Linked DNA regions of Homo sapiens: region 1 is linked to region 2. The links come from fine-mapping of genetic effects on gene expression. A gene starts in region 2. The other region holds a variant in brackets. All regions are shown on one strand. Distances are from middle to middle. Region 1 overlaps XXYLT1 (xyloside xylosyltransferase 1). Region 2 holds the start of XXYLT1-AS2 (XXYLT1 antisense RNA 2).

The links. PIP is the estimated chance that this variant, and not a neighbour inherited with it, causes the effect.
Region 1: its variant is fine-mapped to the expression of XXYLT1-AS2 in transverse colon (GTEx, PIP above 0.99).

Annotation. Positions count from the first base shown.
Region 1 is chr3:195,178,793-195,181,703 of GRCh38, reverse strand. All of the region lies in intron 2 of XXYLT1 (xyloside xylosyltransferase 1), which reads left to right. Among named protein-coding and RNA genes, the nearest start is that of XXYLT1-AS2, 32 kb to the right of the region's middle. RefSeq lists enhancers at 491-1,068, 1,069-1,646. The variant G/A (reference allele first, on the strand shown) is at 1,130.
Region 2 is chr3:195,146,180-195,149,090 of GRCh38, reverse strand. It overlaps XXYLT1-AS2 (XXYLT1 antisense RNA 2), which reads right to left and starts at 1,220. Exons shown (of 2, transcript NR_102711.1): 1 at 986-1,220. All of the region lies in intron 3 of XXYLT1 (xyloside xylosyltransferase 1), which reads left to right. It also overlaps the pseudogene RN7SL36P. RefSeq lists enhancers at 1,103-1,152, 1,393-1,502.

The sequences.
Region 1 (2,911 bases), 33 kb before region 2:
TTAACCACTTGGGCCCAAGACTTCTCCTCTGAAATGAGGGTGAGAGGATCCAGCACATGGCTGGATACATTATCCATGGAAATACACCTATCTCGAGGGTTGTTGTGAGCACCAAGTGAGCTTATATACAGGAACAGCTTCCAACAGTACCTGGCACACAGTAAGCACTCAAGCAGTGTTACCTGCTCACACCATGATTGTGGATATCTATTATCATCCACTTCCTCAGTCCCCTGTCACAGCCCTCAGAGAATTTGAGGTGTTCACTAAAATGACACAAAGGTGAAAAAACAAAACCAAGTAGACACTCAGGGCCAGGGGGTAAATGTGTAGAAGATGAAAGTGTAGACCTCATAGAAAAAGACATAAAGGCACGCCTGGTGGCAAAACATGCTCCGCAGCCCCGCAGCCCCGCAGCCACGCAGCCACGCAGCCACGCAGATACACAGCCAGTGTGAAAAGGGAGATTGTCATCCTTTATGGAGCCGTCATTGTCAGAGAGAAGGAAGCAAGTCAGTCCTCAGGGGAAGCAAGTCAGTCCTCAGGAGAAGCACAGTGTTCTCAAGCACCGACTTCTCAAATAAATTACCTTTATTTCTCTTTTTAGAACATGTTCTCTAAGTGCTACACACCTGGCCGCAGGTGGGCCCCATCAAAGGCTCAGATGCTCCGGCCTTGTCTTTCCCTCTCACGGCCTGGAGTCACCACCCTTTAGCCCTTTGTCTGAACTGAATTCCTTGAAATCAGTTGGGCATTTTATATTTTGGTTTGTGGTCAAACCTCATTAGCCAAGAAGGGATGAACCATACCACTTACTTTTGTATAGCTAAAGGTCTGGGCGACAGTGGCCTTGAGGACCCCTCACGAGCAAAGTCCTGAGGCAGGACTAGGGACAGGCCTTGGAGCTTCTCCCGAGGAGGGCCGGCGCTGCCCTTGCTCCTGGCGAGCAGGTGTGTGCTTGCAGGGGTGGGGGCAGTGGGCAGGCGCCTTTCCCGTCTGCTTGTGTGTGTCCAGAGCTGTCAGACCCATGTTCCTGGTCACGTTTGCAGTGGCACGGGGTGCTCCAGCCACCGCCGTCTGGTGCTCTTAGCCAGACGGGGCCACATCACGCTCTGGAGAGGGCTGGGAA[G/A]GGCCTTAGGGTCTGGCCTCAGATGCTGACCCTTATCTGTTTGTTTGCTTCTTTTCAAGGGCTACAGAGCCAGGAAGAGGAGCATAGAAAGAAAAAGGAACAGGAAATTGTTCAAAAGAAGTTCATGAAATGAGAAAAGCAGCAGGAAACAGCTCGGGAATCGGCGAGGCTGCAGCCGAAGGAAGTGTGTCTTGAGGGCCAGGCGGGCCAGGGGGATAAACCATCCAGACCTTTGTGGCTCCTTCCTTCTGGGCCCTCATGAGTTGGGTCCCCAGGATGGAAGGGACCTTTCCTGTAACTGGGGGACCGAGTGTGCCACTCACCACCCCCGGTGTCAGTGCAGAGACGGGGATCTGGCGTTAGAAATGACTGTGCATAAGCCAGACCACCCCAGGCCTGCTACACAGCTGCCTCCCTCCCTGCCCCTCTTGTTTGCTCCCCTCCTTCCATGACGGGTCAGCGGTGCTCTGCCAGAACCCCACTGCTTGGGGCCGCTCAGAGATTCTTCTGTCCCTCACCAGGCGCTCCGTCACTCAGCCGCACCCTGGCCCGACTCTGCCTGCAGTGTGGAGTCCCGGCCTGGAGCCTGCCTGTGTTGGGGGAGACAGTGGGAGGGAGAGGAGGAAGCAAAGGCCCGAGGGATCACGGGGAGGCATCCTCAGGGGCCCACGCATCAGTCACAGCATGGGCGACGCAGGGCAGGTTTCCTGGCTCAACACCACACTTAGGAAATCCTTTGTTAATTGTGACTCGTTTTTAAATTTGTCCCACATCTCTACGGCTGCAAGTGGAATCTGGAAAATCACCTTTTTTGTGCTTTTCTCATGGGCAGGATGAAATTGAGTTCCCAGTTAGAAACTGCTTACCTCTCGGTGTGGGCTGTTTGCCTCCGGTTTGTTTCTGTTTTTGGGGTTTTTCTGTTGGAATTGACTAGTGGACTTACAAGCTGACGGTGTCCATTCTGGGGCCAATGTCTCCTCAGCATTCCTCCTCCACACACGCAGGCCTCTTCAGCCGACTGATTCTTTGGCCAGTGTTCAAGTTGAGTGTAAATAGGACGTGACTGAAAACCAGTTCTTGAGCTTCCATATCCTTTTCTGGTCAGAGTATTGAACACTGCAGTTTTTAGTGGAGTTAAGGGAGTTGTTGAATTGGGTCAGAGTGTTTTGGGGCTGGAAAAACTCTGAGGTACGATCCCATCATGAGTTCTTTTTTTTTTTTTCTTTTTTTTTTTGAGACGGTGTCTCACTCTTGTCGCCCAGGCTGGAGTGCAGTGGCGCGATCTCGGCTCACTGCAACCTCTGACTCCCTGGTTCAAGCAATTCTCCTGCCTCAGCCTTCCGAGTGGCTGGGATTACAGGCACGTGCCACCATGCCCAGCTAATTTTTGTATTTTTAGTAGAGACGGGGTTTCACCATATTGCCCAAGATGGTCTTGATCTCCTGACCTCATGATCCGCCCGCCTCGGCCTCCCAAAGTGCTGGGATTACAGGCGTGAGCCACCGCGCCCGGCCCCATCATGAGTTCTTGAATCTCCTCCATGGCCTCCCTGGAGTGTGGAGTTGTCCAGTGGAAACTACGTGAAGGCCCAGGGACAGGGAGCTGCCACCTTCAGAGTAGCCTCTTCCATCTTCAGACATATTTTAGAAAACTCTTTCTTATGTTTTCCAAAACCTGCTTTTATCTCTTGATGCTTCAGCTCTCGATCTCAATGAAGAAGCCTATTTCCTTTCTTTTACAAATTCAGAGAGAGCCTTCCATCAGGGGAAACAGTCCCGGCT
Region 2 (2,911 bases):
ATTTTTCTTTTTACTATGAAAACCTTTCAACATATACAAAAGTAGAAAGCATCATGTAATATTTCTGGATGCCCCAATATTATAATATCCATGCAGCCTCAATAACTATCAGCCCTTAGCCAATCTTTGTTTTATGTCTCCTCCCACCCACTTTTCCTCTTCCCCTGATTATTTTGAAACGAATCTCAGTCGTCACAGCATTTCGTCTGTAAATGTCATTTTCAGTCTATTAGTTTCTTAAAAACACATCTGCTGTGGCCGAGTTTAGAGCTGAGGAGAGTTATATGAGCTCATAGTGTCACTCTGTCTTCAAGTTCCTCAGTCTGAAATCAGTTGGTACAAGGGAAGAAAATAGAGAGAGGCAGCACTAACCTCTAGCCAAGCACACTTTCCATCTCTCTGCAGATTGCCTCATGTCAGGATGTTAGCGTGACCGTCACGTCTGGAAGGCTTTATGGCTGATATAAATTCAGGTCCGTTGTTCACTAGGCATGAAGCCCTCCGTTGTAAGGGAACCAGCCATCACCCTCATTACGAGATGCATAAATGTAGGACTTGAAGATAAAAGCTATTGGGTTCTTTTCGTCTCTCTGACACCTGAAGATGAATTTCTTGAACCTTGTTCTCGTGTTTAAAAAAAAAAAATTAACCAAGATTGAGCCTGTCAGTTTCTATCAGAGTTAAATCTGAGTAAAGGAGAAAAAAGCTTGCCACCTTTTAAAATAGTGATTCCTTCACTCCCTGGGAGTTAGAAAACTGGGCTAAGTGTTTTTGTGTAGCCCGTGTGACCTGGAGGCCGTGCTATAACCCCTGCAGGAATTACTCATAAAAAGGGAGGGATGTACCTGCCCTGTGGTAGAGATCAGAAGTCTACTCTGAGGTTGTTATTTTTAAATAACATCAGTGGAAAAGGTATTTTAAAAGGAAAACTCTGTACAGAGAACCCAAGCGGGATTGTGTTGCTGTCATTGTGACCGTCTCTTACCTGATGGCTCTGCCTCCCGGGCAGGCTAGGAGCTCCGGGATGACGTCCCAAGACTCGGGCGCATAGCGGGGGCTGCTGAAGATCGGAGTGTGAGGCTGAGAGATGAGGTCCAGGTGGAGCACGTGAAAAGCTTCCTGTGTCTGAAAACACGACTCCTTCCAGTTCTTTTGTCTGTCTGCACATTATGAGTATTTTGGTACTACTGAATCCGTTTTTAAAAGTTCACCACGTCGTGCCTGACACAGGTGTCTCCTGAAAGAATGAGTGAGGAAGTGAATGCGTGGAAGGGGTGGGACTGGGAGGCAGCCCTTCTGTTCTGTTTATGCCGTGCAGACCAATGCCAGGCACTTCGATGTTTGTTGAGTGAATGCAGGAACAGATGTGTAGTCAGAGGGCGTTTCCTCCGCGGTGCTGGCCAGCTGCTAAGTCAGGCTCTGTAGTCCCATTACTGGTCTTAGAGAAGTTACTTTCACATTCAGTTTTTGTTTGTAAAGACAGTCCATGGGAAAGTTTGTTATTCTCAGTTTGTTTGTTTGAGACATAGTTTCTTTCTTGTCGCCCAGGCTGGAGTGCAGTGGTGTGATCTTGGCTCACTGCAACCTCCGCCTCCCGGGTTCAAGCGATTCTCCTGCCTCAGCCTCCCAAGTAGCTGAGATTACAGGCGCTGACCACCATGCCTGGCTAATTTTTGTATTTTTAGTAGAGACAGGGTTTCATCATGTTGGCCAGGCTGGTCTCGAACTCCTGACCTCAGGTGATCCACCTGCCTGGGCTTCCCAAAGTGCTGGGATTACAGGTGTGAGTCACCATGCCCAGCCTATTCTCAGTTTTTTATTTGGCTCATTGTGTGTGTGAGCCATAGGATTGGTCCCATGAGGAATTACGAAGTAGAAGACATGCCTCTTGCTTTCAAGGAAGATATAACGTGAGGGAGATAGGGTAGATAAAACTTAATGAAAACGCAAATGCCTGCGGTGTCAACACTGAGTCAGTACTGCTGTTTAGAGATATCCCATGGACAAGATACATAGACTTTTTGCTGTAGGAACTGTAAATTTTACTGAGTGGCTCACCTCTCCCTCAGCTTAATATTCTGCCTTCAGCTGGGCATGGTAGCCTGCACCTGTAGTTCCAGCTACTTGGAAGGCTGAGGCAGGGGGGTCACTTAAGCCCAGGAATTCTGTGGGTGTCTGCACTAAGTTTGGCATCAACTTGGTGACCTCCTGGGAACGGGGGACCACCAAGTTGCCTAGGAAGGGATGAAGCAGCCCAGGCTGGAAATGAAGCAGGTTAAAACTCCTGTGCTGATTAGTAATGGGATTACGCCTGTGACTAGCCATGCACTCCAGCCTGGGCAACATAGCGAGACCCTGTCTCTAAAAAAAGAAACCAAACAAACAAAAATGGAGTTCTGCCTTCAAAATGCTAAGAAGTGGGTATCACATTCCCTTCTTTCCTCTGAAAAGTCTCTCGGAGTGGTGTTTGGCTTTGCAATGCAGGCGTAGCCTCTAAGAGTGCTCTTGGGATAGACCAAACTCTGTGCCCGAATAGAAAGCTCACTGGGCAGGCATTTGCCGAGGGTTTGGCTATGCAGTAGAGAGAAACCAGACCCTGTCCTCCAGGAGCTTGCAGTGGGACGTGGGTCTGGACAGGGCTACAGTGGAGGCACAGCGGCGGATGATGGGCCCGCAGGACTGTGTGCTTTGTTGCATTGCTGCAATCTGTTTCCTATGCCAAATAAACATCATCGCATTGAAAGAACCTTATTTGTAATCCAGGCAGCAGAAAGGCTTATCTGTAAGCATCTTCCTGGGGAAAAAAAGCAAAATAGCACAGTTGAATCCCAGTGGCATGTGTACAAGAGGGACCTTCTGTAACAAACCACGTGTGGAAAGGACTGAGCTGAGCGTGACCAGCCCCACATGA